Regions from separate parts of the Homo sapiens genome. Here region 2 is linked to region 1. A link means that fine-mapping ties the variant in region 1 to the expression of a gene that starts in the linked region. Tissue or cell type: tibial artery. Region 1 holds a variant in brackets; the other region holds the start of a gene. All regions are shown on one strand. Distances are from middle to middle.

Evidence for each region. PIP is the estimated chance that this variant, and not a neighbour inherited with it, causes the effect.
Region 2: it holds the start of CAPN6, and the variant in region 1 is fine-mapped to the expression of CAPN6 in tibial artery (GTEx, PIP 0.97).

Annotation. Positions count from the first base shown.
Region 1 is chrX:111,512,530-111,520,637 of GRCh38, reverse strand. SERTM2 (serine rich and transmembrane domain containing 2) reads right to left here. Exons shown (of 3, transcript NM_001354473.2): 3 at 1-2,563. The coding sequence starts at 1,780. The coding sequence ends at 1,508. Among named protein-coding and RNA genes, the nearest start is that of SERTM2, 4.9 kb to the right of the region's middle. The variant C/A (reference allele first, on the strand shown) is at 4,340.
Region 2 is chrX:111,266,702-111,274,809 of GRCh38, reverse strand. It overlaps CAPN6 (calpain 6), which reads left to right and starts at 4,327. Exons shown (of 13, transcript NM_014289.4): 1 at 4,327-4,439.

The DNA of each region.
Region 1 (8,108 bases):
AAGCACTTGGGAATTTCACTACCAATCTAGATTTAGATCAGAGAAAAAGGGCCAATCTAAATTGGTTACAGACTACAAAGAGCTACATTTCTGGTGGAGGTGGCATTAATCTAACATCTATTTGATTTCTCTCTTACCATCATTACAGTTCCTGAGAGAGTACTCTGTGAAATTTGATGACCCCCCTTTAGGTACAAAAGATAACTTATTTTTTGTTTTAGCAAGTAAAATTTAACACAGGTGTACTCGTCCTTTGGTGGCAAGAATATGACCAGTTTTTTAAATTCTGATTTGTAAATGGTACTCATCTCCTTTGGTTTCCCTTTGAAAAGTTAGTTTTAAAAATTAAATTCTCTCCACACTACTGGCATACTAGGGCTACTTATGAGAATGGAATTTTTCAAAATATAATTCTCTTATAGGTAATAAGTGAAACACTTCATCTTTTGGCAGGGATCAGGAAGGGAGGAACATTTTCTGGGAAATACAAATGTGACATTTGAGGACATTGATCTCAATAAGGATTTGTTGGAGGATGTTGTTTAGTCCTTTCCTCCTTTGTCTCTCTCTCTTTTTTTTATGCTCAGATCTAAAGAGTATAGTGATGACTAAATAGCTCTCTAATCATTTTTCAGCACAAAAACCCTGGGACTCAGAAGGCTTGAATGTTTTGTCCAAAGCCATATTCAACAACAGAATACCAACATCATTTTATTTCTGCTCTAAAGTACAGTTGAGTCTTGTTTGCAAAGGCACCTTTTAAACAAAGCTCATATTTGTGTGCAACTCTATCCTAGAGTGTGAGAGGGAGAGAGAAAAAGACAAAGAAGCTGCATGAATAGAATTAATATGGATATAATATGCACATTTTTCTCTCTCTAGATGAGTTTGTTTACTAGAAACTTCTTTCTGAAAACTTGCTCTCTAAACTGAAACAGTTTCTTTAAATCTCTTCTTTCATTTGAAACAAACCGGATTGCCTAAGATGATCAAATCACTGCTGTTTAGGGAAAGGGCTTCTCTTCCATTAACTTCTGACATAATTTAACTTTGTATAGAGGTGATTCTCTAGGATCAAAACACTAAATTAGAACTTGTCCTTTTCTTGGGATATCCTCTTTGAAGGATCAGCCCTTTCAAAAGCAAATCTTCTTTGTTTGTTTTTGGAGCTTCCAGGGACCCTGTGCTTCTTACAACCACTGCGCATGAATTTCTGTGGTCTGAGGTTTGTGCAAGGCCCAGGCACTGTTTGGTTACTATGGAAACCAGCCCTCCCAACCAGCTGTCTTTTCCTATATTCCTTTCAGAGTGAGTCTTAAACGTTTTAGATAGCCCACAAGCAGAGTAAAGATGAAGAATAACACAAAGAAAACATGAACAGCTTGCTGTTAAATGAACAACTTGTGGATTCCCTACATGGGAAGCTTCATGCAAGAAAGCAAGCTCTCCTGGACATCCATATATAAGGGTTTACCCAGATCCACTAAAGCTCACCTTCATCCTGGCTTTAGGGAGTGGGGATTCGACTCTGCATCTCTACATCTGTGAACTGAGGAACACTTTCTGTGCTGTCAGAGTTGATGGGCGAGATGACATGTTTGAGCCGAAGGAGCATTGTGAAGAGCAGGATGAGGAGAATGGCCAGGAGGCTCAGGAATAAGCCCACATACATGTACAGGTTGGAATACTTGTCTGAAGAGGTATCAACCTCTGTTGCCAGAGTGGGAAAATGGGCACGCCCAGTGAGATTTCCATGGTATTTAAAATGCGCCTCCATCATCACTCAAGACTTGAGTTAGTATGTGTTTCTATTTGATTTCTACTGCCCTTGAGGCATTTCACAGTCACTTAGACTGTCTCTAAATCTATTGGACGTGTTCTAACAATCTGGTAAAAACCAATCACTCTCAGAGCTAAGGCAATAGCACACAAGCAGAAAATGGTGATGCTATTTGACAATTGCAACACCCTCTCTATCCTTCAGCACAGCAATCGCCCCTCCAATAGGTTTTATCAGAGCTTCTTAATCAATTTTTAAAAATACAAGTAATGTTTTATTTTCCACACTCCTACTTTTATACTGATTAAAATAAATATGGGTGAAACTGCTTTATAATACTGTTATTAGAACAAGAATCTTTTAGAGTATTATATCAGTGTTTTGCTCTGTTTTCGTAGATGGAGAAAAGGCTCGTTTTGCCTATACCTAATCTAGATGTGTGGACTAATTATGTGGACTTAATTGGGCTCTTCTGCGAGGAGACTATCTGAAGGCTTTTGTATATATCAGGCTCAGCTTATCTGAGTTTTCACCCCGTTTATCTGTATTTCTGAACCTTCCCTAAGGATGGAGATTGTAAGGTTCCTGCCCAGCTGCACAGCTTGTAAGTCTACAGAATGTGAGTTTTCTGTAGCTTTGTTGACATCCCTCACTGTAGGCTGGAGGGAAAGTGTTGTCAGACCTGGTAATTCTCAGGTGAGAGAGGTCTCAGAGATGCTGACAGCAGTAGGCCTAGGCTCAGGAGATTTGGCTCTTCAGATTCTCCAACAGATATTGATTTTCCTGAAAATCAAAAACAAAAATAAAAGATTCAGTTATCTCTAAGAAAAACAAATGGCAATGTATTTTGAAATAAAAATAAATTGATAAATTGCAAAATGGTTTGCTATATGCAAACTAATTTTAGAATGCTTTTTCTTCTCTGTAGAAAATAGCTTTTAAAAGGTTAAAGAAAAAAATCACATCAGTAAACAGCAGCTAATGACTAACCTATATTAGAACAACGTTTTCTAAACCAACTGATCATAAGATTTACTTGGGGGTACTTATTAATATACAGATCCTGGGCCCAAACCTAGACTTCCTGAATCATAATCTCCACAGTAGGGGCCTGGGCACCACTCTAGAGATTCAGACTTTATTGGTCTGGGATGGGACCCAAGCACTGCTATTAAAAAAAAAAATAGCCACCCATATTCAAAGTTCATGTTTAGAATGCCAAGTTAAATCATTTTGGAAGACTTCAGCAGTAAATAGTTGACCCTATTTACATGGTGGAATGCTTTTGCCCACAAAAAGAAGGTTCTATCTATACCAATGATGAAGGATGCATTTATTTGCTCAGAATAGGCACACCCTCTCAATTCCTTCTGGTCTAAAAACACTGGGGAAAAATGTCTATTTTTACCCCACATATCTAAATAAGAGAGATAGAAGAAAAGCAATAAAGTCTTTTCCAAGTAACTTCAAAGCGCAGCCAGGACTAAGAACCACTGATCTAGTTGAACCAGAAAGCCTAGCACTGAAACAAAGGAATCCTAAGTTTAAGGAATTGTTTTTCAATCTCCAGATCCCAGTGACAATTGTTACTTTAATGAATCAGGGGAACATTCAGGAATGCAGGCTTCCTCCAATTTTCTTTTTTTGTTCTATCTCTCTCATTTAGATCTGTAGAGTGGAAATAGACATTTCCCCCCAATAGTTATAGACCAGAAGGAATTGAGAGGGTATGCCTATTCTGAGCAAATAAATGCACTGCATGCTTTATCGTTGGTAAAGCTAGAACCTTCTTTTTATTGGCAAAAACATTCCACTGTGTAAATAGGGTCAACTATTCACTGCTGAAGTCTTCCAAAATGATTTAACTTGCCATTCTAAACATGAATTTTGAATATGGGTGGCTAAAATAAACAATATAAACAACCATCACCTGTCACACTTCTATGTGCAATAGTAGATTGCTAACAATGTAGCCTAGTTCTGTCTGTTGTTAACATACCCAAGGAGAGTTCATAGAAATAGCTCCAACGGTCACATTATTTTTCCTATCATATTGAATTTTGCCCCCAGCTTGGGAACACTTCAGCTTAAAGTTTGTATTCCCTAGCCCACGTTACTATACTTTCCATAATCCATATTTTTCTTAGTCTACCTGCTTACTGTTCCTATTGCCCATACAGAATAACTTGGTTCATAAGAAACAAGAGCAGAGAGAGAGAGAGAGATATATAATATCTTTCCACTATATTTGGAGCAATGGTCTAGGAAACATTTTTCTATCCTTACAAGTGCAGCTATTTTGATATTTGATTAGCTGGGATCAAGGCCCAGGAATACGCATACTAAACACAAGCCTTTCAAGTATTTCTTTGTATACTGAGCTTTGAGAGTTAATTATTGTTTTTTCTCTCTAGATAGCCCAGCTAAAGAATACAGCTAATCTATCTTATTGGTTGTTTGGAGGCTGTACTTTTAAAAGCATTTAAAACAGTGTTATGGGTGAATAGTGTCACCCCCCAAAAATGGTGAAGTCCTAAACTCCAGTAACTGTGAATGTAA[C/A]CTTATTTGGAAATAAGACCTTGTAGATGGAATCAAGTCAATATATTAGGTTGGCCCTAATATAATGACTGGTGTTCTCACAAGAAGAGGAGAAGACAGAGGCATACAAGCAGAAGACAGAGGCAGAGATTAGAGTGGTGCATCTACCAGCCAAGGAATGCTGAGGATTGCCAGCAAATACCAGAGGCTCGAAGTGGCAAGGAAGGAGTCTACCCTACAGATTTCAGAGAGTGCACGGCCCTACTGATGCCATGATTCCAGACTTCTATACTCCAGGCCTGAAAGAATAAATTTCTGTTGTTTTAAGTCACCTAGCTTATACAATTTTTTATGGCAGTTTTAGGAAGCAAATATATGGACTAATCACCCTGAAACCCTAGTGTTTTGGAACCTTTGGGGCAGTGTTTCTCAGAGTGGTCAAGGGAAGTGCCTTCATCAGAATCACCTACAGGGTGTTTATTATGAATAAAAACACGGACCCTTTCCCAGACCCTTTCCCTTTTTTCTTAGATTAGAATCTCTGGGGACAGTATCCTGGAATCAATGTTTGAAACAAGTTACCCACTTGTTTCTAAGCACACTCTTCAGGGAATGTTTTTCAGTCCTTGCTCTACTTTAATATTACTTAGTATGTTTTTGAAAATATATATAACTGGGTCTTTTCTTCAGGGTTTCTGATTCAGTAGCTCTGTATGGGGCATGAACATCTGTATTGCTTAAAAGCTCCACAGGTGATTTTGATATGCAGCCAGGGCTGAGAAACACCAGTCTACAAATAGAACAGAGCACTTCAAATCAGGACTCTAACAGTCCCAGACAGCCCACACAGCTCAATTGCTTCACTATGTATTCAGAGTGCTTCATATATAGGTTGTCAGTCTCACTGGCCTTCCTCCTCACCACTTCTCCCAGCAGCTCCTTTCCTTAAGAATGGTAGTAACCTAGAGATAAGAGCTTAATGGATTTTTCACCCATGTATCTCCTAAGTTACTTTTTCACCTGCCTTCCAGAAAAGAAGGGTAAGGAAAAATAAACACTCACTGCTAGTGCAAGTCAAGTGGGAGAAACCTCTACACTATTCTAGTATCTTTATACTCCCTTTTGGACCCCAAGTATACAGAATCAGGTAAGTCATACTCCTTGGTTTATGGCACATTGTCATCACTGGTAAATTTGAGCTCTTTTTATTCACTTATTTAATAATATATTGAACACCCATGGACAAACATCTGTGGGCAAACATCTACCAACTTTAAGATTGAGAATAACTAATAATTTACACGACATCTACCTATGCTCCTCCCATCTCATCCTCTTACCTATCCTTCTCCAGAAATAACCAATAACCAATATTCTGAATTTTGTGACTCATTACCTTCCTTTTATTTACACACACACACACACACACACCCCTATGCCTAAACGATGTTAGTATTATTTGTTTTGAACTTTATAAAAAATATACCAAACTGTGTAATCTTCAACTTGCTATTTTATTCTATATTTTATTACTATACAATTTATTTATAACTAGTCTAGTGGAATGAAAAAGGAAAAAGAAATAAAATGTTGGAAGTCTACATGTTGCCTTTGGATTTTACTCCATTCTCCTTAGCTTGACATTTAAGGCTGTCAATGCCTTGGCCCTGGCTTACCTTAATTCCTTCCATTACCCTCTTTCCAATAAAACTGTAATGCTCACTCTTACCTACTTCCCTGCTTCCACATTTTTGTTTGACCAGTTCCTTCTATCTTCACACATCTCTGGGTGAGGAAATACTACAATTCTTCAAGATTTAGTTCATGAAGCTGATCTTGACTTTCCACCCTAACCCTAATTTCCACAATGCTTTGTATTTCTCTTAGAGGAATTAAATTTGACAAATATTGCAGGTATCTAGTTGATATGTTTTCTTCTAAATTGTAACTTACAAAATTCTTGAGGATCATTTTCAGCAGTCTATCCCTGATACAGCTTTGCTTGCAGTAGCTGCTCAAGAATTATTGAATAAATGCATGGGTATGATGAAGAAATGTACCTAACATTTACAGTTCAAAGAGAGGCACAGTCTTATCTCTGATCCGATTGCTAATATAGCTTGGAGAAGAATATAACTTTCTCTTTTCTTTTTATTCCCTTCCCCCACTGTTCAATTTCTTATTGGAGACTAAATTCCAGATTATAATCTAGAATTAAGAAATTATCACCTTGTTAGAAACTCTCTTCATGAAGTGCTATTTCAGTTACAAGATTTTAAAGGAAAACTACATGGGATTGGTTAGATTTTAAATTAAATTTTAGAAAGTTCACTTGTGTCTGCAGATAATTTTCAATAACAATTGATACTACATTTTCTGCCTCCTACACAATTGACTCTGAATCTTCCTTAGGTCTGAATACTTATTCAATATTTATTAGAATTCTATGAAGCTTGGAGAAGCTTAGAGAACAATGATCTCAGCTAACCTTGTCAATTTCTTTAAACATTTCCTTTGAAAGTTTGGAAAACTAGCTAATCACATATTTCTTAAAGCCTCTACAGTCTTCGGGAGACCAAACAGTCTGGTCAATTTAGGGAGGTTTATCAATTTAATTCCTTAAATCCATTAAGGACTTTGAAATGAATAAATGCAACGTTAGATATTAGGAAATCCTCTTTTTTGTTACTCTGGTCCTATATCTGTGACTACTTCTCATAAAAGCTTTTCAAACAGGATTGTCATGGCTCTCTTTGCTAACTAATTAATGAGTTGCACAGATAATATGATTGCTCTGTTAAAAGCTCTGCACCATTTGGAAAGAAAAACAACCATGCAATTTCAAAAGGAATTCAAATTCTATTAATTCTGAAGGATATGATTTTTTGTGGAAAGAATTATTTTAGTATCCTGCAGTTCTTTCTGGAAAGCTCATGCAATAAAAATCAGTTTCTAGTCTTTGTAAAAGTGATTGAAAGCTGTTGAGGGAAAAGGAGGAGAGTGAGGAATGGAAAAGGGGGTAAGGAATTAGGGAAAGAAAGAAAGGAAGATAGAGGAAGAGGGAAGGGAGAGAGGAGGAAAAGAAAGAAATGTGAGAAATGAGTAAAGACTATGAGGGATGTGGGATGGAGATAAGATGGGGCAGGAAATGAGTGATTATGAGGGGGAGAAGGAAGGGAAGGAGGTAATATTGAGAAAGAATGGAGCAAAAAAAGAGGAAGAGAAGTTTGGGGGAAAGGGAAAAGAGAAAGTGTTTAATAACTGGTCAATGTCCAATATTAACTTGTACATCTGGTTTACTTCACTTCTAATGTAAACCAAAATACTCACAAGTGACATGAATATGCACCTTTGGTTTTCTAATTGCATATTTTGTCATTAATTTGGTAAATAAAATCTTAGTAACAAAAAGTCTTGTGTTTTTAGTATAAACATTGAAATGTCAAGTTCTCACTAATTTTTGACATCAGCATAGTGTATATAACCTCATAGGAGCAAAATAACATACACTCCTAGATCATGAATTTTGCTCCCCAGAATGATAAGGGAATAACTTTCTGCATCAATCAAGCCCGAGAGGGATTCTTTGAGTGAAACTTATTTGTAGCAAGAGCAACCAAGTTCTCCACAGGCCTCCAAAATCAGATTAACATTTCTTTGGCAAACATTTATTGAGTGCCAATCAAGTTCCAGACACTTTTTTAGGTGCTGGAGATATAAAATAAGTGTACCCTGATCTCTGTTTGGTTCTCAGGGTGCTCCTAGTAGTTACTTTTATTTTCTTTAACAT
Region 2 (8,108 bases), 250 kb after region 1:
ATTGAGAAACTAGAGCCCTTTTGTTGACAAGGCAAATGAGTTGCTTCCCCTGATTAAAAAAAAGTTCTGCTGCCAGCCAGCGAAGCATATTTTTGTGTTAACCAGGCCAACAGAGAAGATATCCAACTTACACTCTCCCAAAATCTTGGTTGAACTCCACCCCAAGGCTATTTGGTTTGGAAGCTGACAGTCCATCCTCTTCCGTGGCTTCTGTTCACACTTTCACTGGCCTTAGAGGATTTCAAGCTAAAAAGAGGCAAGGACTGTAGTTAGCTAGCCAAAACCAAATGACACTGCCCCACACGGCAGAGCCATACTACACCAATGTACAGCAACCCCCGCCCCTGCCAACCACTTGGCATACTGGGTGCAGCTGGCTTTTTTTTCTCCCTCAGGGAACTCAGTTTTACAATCTAGGGATGGAAAATGCCCAATATAGGGGAAAATATTGGGCTGGGAATGAGGCTAGAGGAAGCAAAAGAACAGAATCCAAGACTTGGGTGAGGGCTGAGATGGAATTAACCAGAATCTATAACATCTTGGAGACAGCAGACACCAACTTGCTCCACAAATCCTAGGCTACCATATCAAAAGCCTCCTTACCACTATCCCCACAAGCTTTTAAATGAGGTCATTTTAAGATAAGTAAAATGTGCCACATTACCCAGATAATGGAACAAAATAGTAGTATGGACTGAAAACTTCCACAAAGCAAATACATGACTGATTTTTAATTATTGAGGGTGAGATCATGTTTCTTATTATAGCCTGCCATTATAACTCCAGCAACTAGCATAGTATCTGGTATATAGTAGGAGCTCAGTAAATGCTTATTGAAAATAGGACTGTTTTATTCCTATTTTATAGAGCAGGAAACCAAGGACCAGAAGGGCTGTGCCTTGCCCTAGAATATACAAGTAGCAAGCATCAGAGCTTTAATAAACTATTATTAAGGTAAGGCAGGAACACTCTGGCTCTCTCTTGACCATTTGTGGTATCTTAGTGTTCATAATGATCAACCAAGTAGACTATGAGGCAGACCAAGGTGGCAATTCTTATCCTTTATTATTCTTTGTTATTTCCTCTGACTGGGATGCCATCCTCAGTCTCTTCCCTGATTCCTACCAACATATGCACACATCATTATTTTGTTCCTATTGGGATCCTACTCATTATTTAAGATCCAGTTCAAATTTCACCTCTTGTATAAGGCCTGCCTCGACTACTCTTATTAAAATAGTTCTCTCCCATTTTGGAACTCATACAACACCCATAGGCCATACCACTCATTTGGTGTTTGAAATCTCATAGCATTCTGGTTAAGAGCCAGTCTTCAGAGTTAAATAGAGCCTGATTTAAATCCCAGCTCTGCCAATTTACTAGGTGTGTGGCTGTGGGCAAGTTAATTAACCTCTCCATCAAGGAGCATGATCTTTGAACTGGAAAGAGAATTAAAGCCCAAGATAGATGAGGAGATAATAAAGGAGTCCTTAGCTGCCTTCAATGAGTTTCCAGGCCCACACAAATCACATTTGAGGCTGCTGAGAGAATGTGCAGATGTGATCACAGAGCCAGTCTTGGTAACCTTTGAGAAATTATGGCAAAGAGAAGACATGAGGGGTGCAAAGAGGCAGGGAAATATCCCAATTTTTAGTGAAGGTAGGTGGTGGTGGTGTGGGGTGCAAAATATAGATCCTGGAAACTGAAGACCAATGAGCATGGCATTTATCCTTGGCAAAAGTGTAGAATGCACTGTTAGGCAGATCGTTTGTGAGGCTTTAGAAAGGGAGCGGAAATCACTAGGGGTAAGCATGGGATGACTAAAAGCAAGACATGCCTAACTAAGTCCGTTTCCTTTTTGAAAAGGGTATCTAAAAGGATAGATCACTGGGATACCATAGTATACTGTATCTGGATTTCAGCAAGACATTTGAAAAAGTCTTATGATATCTTCATGAAGAAGATGGAAAAGTCAGAGCTGGGTGGTAGCAGGAGTTATATGGATTGTTTCAAGTTTGAACAACCTTATCAAAAGGGGAAGACTCTTAAGGTTATGCTGCAGTATTCTGTCCTGGACCCTCTCATTCAATACTTTCATCAGTCTGGCTGATCAAATACACATATAAAACATTTATTGATACAGATCATGCATTCTCAATGGGGGTGATATTGCCCCCAAGAGGGCAAAAATTGATTCTTGAAGAGTGAAAAAAAAATTTCTTTTTTACATGAAACAGAGATATACATACAGCAAATAAACAGATAGACAGCAAATAAACAGATAGACAGCATATCTGTGGTATTAAAATTTCACGGAGAGACATTGGGAAAAATATCTAAAAAGGCTCTTTAGGACCGTGATAATGATAAAAAAAGATTGAGAAACATTACTATGGAGAATATGATTTTGTATATGAGGCTCAAGATAAAGAAAGATCTTAAGGAGATAGATTAAAATAAACAAGGCAATGGTTTTTGAGAATGAATACAAAGCCCAGCATCCAGGTAAAATTAAAAGTCAATTGTACAAACCTAGAATCAGGCACATAGTAGTAGTTCATGCAAGAAACAACAGAGGATTTTGATTAAGCTACGGGCTGCACACTGAGTAGATTTATGCTCAAAAGACAACTAGAGTGGCAAAAAGTCTGTAAACCATGTCCTATGAGGCATGGTTTGAAAGAACTGAGGATATTTAGCCCAGAGGATGAATGACTTGGCGTGACATGCTAGATATTTTAAAGGGCTGTCATGTGAAAGAGGAATTAGAAATTGTTTGTGTGAAGCTATTTTTTCCTCAACCTAAGGAAGACCCTTTTAACAATTAGGAAATGATCAAATATGGAATAAGCTGTTTTGCATAGGGATGAGTTTCTCAGACTGTCAGAAGGATATTTCTGCACTGAGCAAGAGGATAAACATGGCTTCTAAGGTTCCTTCCAATTCCCAGGTTCTGTGATTCCCTGCTAGATTTACAAGTATGAAGGTGGAAAAGATGGCTAAAGAATATGAGCCCAGACAAAACATCCTCCGTTGATTTTAAAACCAAAATTCCATACCAGGGATATTTGCTTGAGGACTATCTCACTGTCTAGCTGAATGGTTGCCAATATTTAGAGGCCTAATTGCCCTGGACCCCTGTTTCCTTGTGCCCTACCTCTAGCTGAATTTCCATCTTGGCATAGAAGGTACAGAGGGAGTTGTAGGGAAATGCCAAGAAGGAGATCTCAGAGACCAGAGTTATAGAAATGCTCAGAACTGTTTTATGAAAACATTGGTATGGGCCCAGTGAGTGGAGAGAGAACATGCTTCCTGTCCTTGTTGAGCTCTATGTTGCTCACTTGTTATCCCCAACCCCCCTTATCTCTTACATCTTCAACTAGCCAGCAGGAGGGTTGGTGCAGGAGGAGGGGTAGAAGGAAGTAATTTCAGGTTCAAGGGTTAACAGTACACTGGTCAGGAAAGCTGAGGAATGAGATGATGAGCATCTTTACAGTTTGTGAAAATGAAACAAACAAAACAACTTGAGAATCATGTTCCTGGAATTGTGTCCAAATGAATGTCTCAGGTTGAAGGGACCAGGACTTTGACTGTGATGCAGTATAGTATTTATAGGGATCTTGCTTGGCCTTTCAGAGCAAAAACAATTATTTTCTCTCCTCTCACCTAACACAGCTGTGCAGAATCTTCATAGCCTGGTTGCTAGAAATTAGGGTTCTTATAGCTGCTGTGGAATAAACTCCATTCACTTTCCTCTTAACAATCCCTTCTCTCTGTCTTTGACCAAATGTTACCTGTTGTTTCACGAAGTGACCTTTTCTTCATTGCACCCCATTAGCTGCTCTTTCACTCCCAGTCACTTCCTGAAGTCCTCATCACTATCACAGATCTGCCTACCAGGGCCATGTCTGACCAGGGCCATGTCTGCAGCCTAGCCCATATTAACTTTGCCAACACTTCACCATTTTTCTCTGCATGTCCTCTCTCTAGTAATGTGCATGTCTGTGATATTAACCCTGGGACAGAAAAGTAAGAAATCTATCAGAATCCTCGCTGAAAGTCTTATTTCTCCTTGAAACCGAAAGAGCTTTCAAACGTGGCTTCCTGAGTTTTTCAGTTTGCTGGTGGGTGGGTCTGGAGTGGGCATCCCGTCTGCACATCTGGTAGAGGCACTTTCCACATTTTCCTCATGACTCAGGATCAGTTTCTGACTGCTGGGCGGGGCAAAGCCTCCTGAAGTTGCTGCGAGGCACCTCCCCCTGTGAGCAGAGCTTGGTACAGCCCAAATAGTTTTCAGGTTAAGAAAGCCAGAATCTTTGTTCAGCCACACTGACTGAACAGACTTTTAGTGGGGTTACCTGGCTAACAGCAGCAGCGGCAACGGCAGCAGCAGCAGCAGCAGCAGCAGCAGCAGCAGCAGGGCTCCTGGGATAACTCAGGTGAGTAGAGAGGGAATTCGCAAACTTACCCTGGAGTTTTATTTCCTGGATAACTTAGCGTCTAAGAAAGATGAAGAAACTTCAACTTTGTAGTTAACCAAACTCCACAGCTATATTTTATGGCTTGTCTGGATCAAATATGTGCCCGTTAATAGCAGTTTGAGAACTTCAAAAATAATGGAATTTTTGGTTGGTTATTTTGAGGGGTGTGTGGGGTGATGATTGTGGTTGTCTGGCAATGAAACTTTTCTGGGGATATCTGGTCAGTTTTTTGTGTGTGTGCACACACGCGTGCATGTGTATGTGTTTGCCTTCTGCTACCCAAAATACCTGGTAAGTGAGGAAAAATCACAGGGGATGGTGTTGAGGGGGAGAAGCGTGGCTCCTTTCAGGGCCTCCTTCTAGCTTCTGCTGACCCACAGCTGTGGGAAAATTATTGAAATGCGAGCAAAATCTTGGAGCCACACTGTGTGCAAAAGGCCTGTGAACTCTGGTAGGAGGGTGAGCAGGCTGTGCAGTGTTGTACAGGAGGAAGTGGTGGCCAAGTCTATCTTAACTCCCTGTCTGCACAGCCAGTGGTCTTCCTGCCCTGGTGACAGGTTGATCTTGGCTATTCCATTTTCAGCCTCTGGCCTGGCTTTGTTCCCCTCTGATTCCAGCTTTGGTTTAAACTTTGATTTCAAGATGGGGCTCCATCCTCCACTCCCAGGCCAAGTACACTGTTCTAGGGTCTTCACTGGACCACTTGATCAGAACTGGCTTTGGGTGGGGGACGGGAAAAAGGAGCGGTGCATTGTAATGGAAACAATTGGTTCTGAGGATTTGGAACTGTAAGTTTGCTGAAAAGCACATAGGAAAACTCAGCAAATTCTGCTGTCCTAACAATTACTTCTGGCTTCAGGATAAAACATCCTGGTTTGTATTATTGGTGTATTGAAATTCAGCTAATGCCTCATTTGCTAATCTTTATTGTGAAAGTAAGAACACTTTACAGTCTGAAGTAATAAACAAAAAAATTATTTGTGGACTGCTAATTAACTCTTTTATTCCTCTGGAAGTTTGTGTGTGTGTGTGAGCATGCTTATGTGCACGTGTGTGCCTGGGTGTGTGTGAATACTTTGTATTCAAATAGCGTTCTTTATTTGTCCTTAGACTCCCTAGCAGTCTAGGGAAAAAGTCTAAACACTTACATGGTCAGGAATAGGTTAAAAAGCAGGCTTTCCATATCCTTGGGAGTTTTCAGTTCCTAAATTAAAAGCAGAAAAAGTCCCTTTGTGACCCCAAAACAGTGTTTCTTTGATTAGCCTTGATTTGAAATCATCTCACCTTCTGACAGCTTGCAATTCAAAAACAAAACTTCTAAGTGCATTCTTGTGAGAAGAGTACAATATGAATTTTTAAAAGCAACGTCTTGCTTGACATATTGTGTCTGCATGTTTGCCCTCCTCCCCACCTTACAACAAATTGTGGTTTAAAAAAAAACGTTGGGAGGTCCCAGTTTTAGTGTGGGCTCTGTCACTAACTACATAACCCTGGGCAAGTGCCTTTACCTTACAACAAAAGAAAGAAGTTGTACTAAGTGATTTCTAACAGACTTTCCAACATAACATTCTATAAAATCAGAATTTGATTCTTGAAAGGCTGGAAAAGTAGACATATAGGATGGGCTTATTCGGCCAAAAGGGCAAGTCAGCCAAAAAAGGAGGGGTGAAATAGGGAGGTGTAGAGAATGGTGGAGGGGCAATTTTTATATTAGTCTTTTAAATGTTGGTGCATGTCTTATTTAAAGCACATGATCAAATTTCATTAGTTTCCCCTAAAGACAGAAAAGAAATTTAACTTGTTAAAATAAGTGCTTCCTAATACTACTGCCCTGCTTTAGCCTTATCTTTAACAATAAAGAGTATGTTCACATACATAATTTCATTACATTCTCCCAATAACACTCTGAAGTAGACAGGGAAGCTAACATATTCCCATTGTGCTATGTGGAAACTGAGGGACTGAGATGTTATGTATACTAAATGGTGATATTTTGGATTTGTTTCTGGATCTTGTAACCACCTGTGTTCCTTTTATCATTTTGAATTGCTTTTTATTTTTTGATAGAGTTATTGAGCAACCGAATTAAAATTGTGTCCTCTTTTTTTTCCTTTGAATGGCTTTGAACAGACTCTTCTCTCTGGGCCAGTAGGTACATCCTATATAAGGCAGTGGGCTGGATCAGAGGATCTCTGTGGTCCTTTTTAGACCCAGAATATCTGGTTAGAAGTTTGAATCTGAACAGCCATACATAAGTCCTGTGGTTAAATGCGTGCCCATGTATGTAAGCTATGACTCTGCCTGTGTACCTATGAAAAGCACTATTCTCTGTATACCATGTGGATGCTGAATTTGTATTACTTTTTCCTATCCAAGTCCCTTTTCTCTCACCATACCACCCCCCAGGTGTGGGGATAAGGGATGTGGATTGTGGGTAAAAGTGGTGCCTACTTCATGCCAGGGCAGAATTGGGTCTTCTGTATTCAATTTGTCTGCAAACTTTTATTGATTTTATCTTGATTTTTGCTCCAAGTACAGAACAGGGATGAAACTGAGGAAAAGGAGAAACTAGGCAGGAACAATGCCTCAGCCATGCCCTCTCTCCCTCTCCCCATTAAGTTCCCTCATGTTCTCTCCCACTCACCTAAATCCAAAGTGGCTTGTGAACCACAGACAGGATGTATTTTATCAGATTTTTTTAGAGCAAAATATGCTTTTTGCTCTAAGGCTAACCCGCAGGTTAAGAAGCAAGAGATTTTGCTTTCACGACTTGCCTAGCTTCCTCAAGCTTTCCAGTCCAGTGAGTAGAAAAAAAATACCTCTCTCTTTAAACTGCAGCCTTGTATTCTACGTGGCAGTCTCCCTCAACTTCCCTGGCAATTCTCAACTTTCTGCACTCTGGGCCCGCTCCTATCCTTTGCCTTGGCAGACACGGTTGTCCTCATATTCTTTCTCAAAGTGGTGGATCTGAATTATAATAATATTGCCTAAGACCATTACCTCAATGCTAAGCCCCACCACACTCTGCCTCACCCAACCGCTCATTCCACTAGCCCTCAGGCCACAGGGTCCCTCTTCTCAAATGTCCACATTGCCTTTGTTAGCTAGAGGCTCTCCTTGGTTTATATTCAAATCCCTGGGTTTATACTCAAAGCCCTAACTTTTATCTTGTCTCCCGACTTTCCTAATATGTGATCTTTAACGTAAGGGCTCTCCCTTCCCCATCGCCATCGGGTGCAATAGAACAGAAAGGAGGGAGTGTTCCCTTCTCTGCACTCATCCGTTCCAACAGAGTAAGTTGTTTATGACAAACTCAACTTACAAATTTCTGGGTTTCCAAAAGTATTCTGATGTTTAAATGATGAACCCGCCGATGTAAAGAGTTCAGATTCTCCCATGAACATCAAACCATGAAAATAAAGAACCTTTTCAATGTCTACCATGGCAATAAATTCTAGGCAGAATGCCTCAAAGTTGAGTATCATGTTTGCTTTGGAGGATTTCCTCATTTGAACTAAAAAATCCTTTCTCTAAGAAGGCAGTGACCAAAAGAAGCAGTGTGGTGTGATGGAAAGCTGCACACTGAATCTGGCATTGCACAGAACCTGGATTTGAGTTAACTCTGCC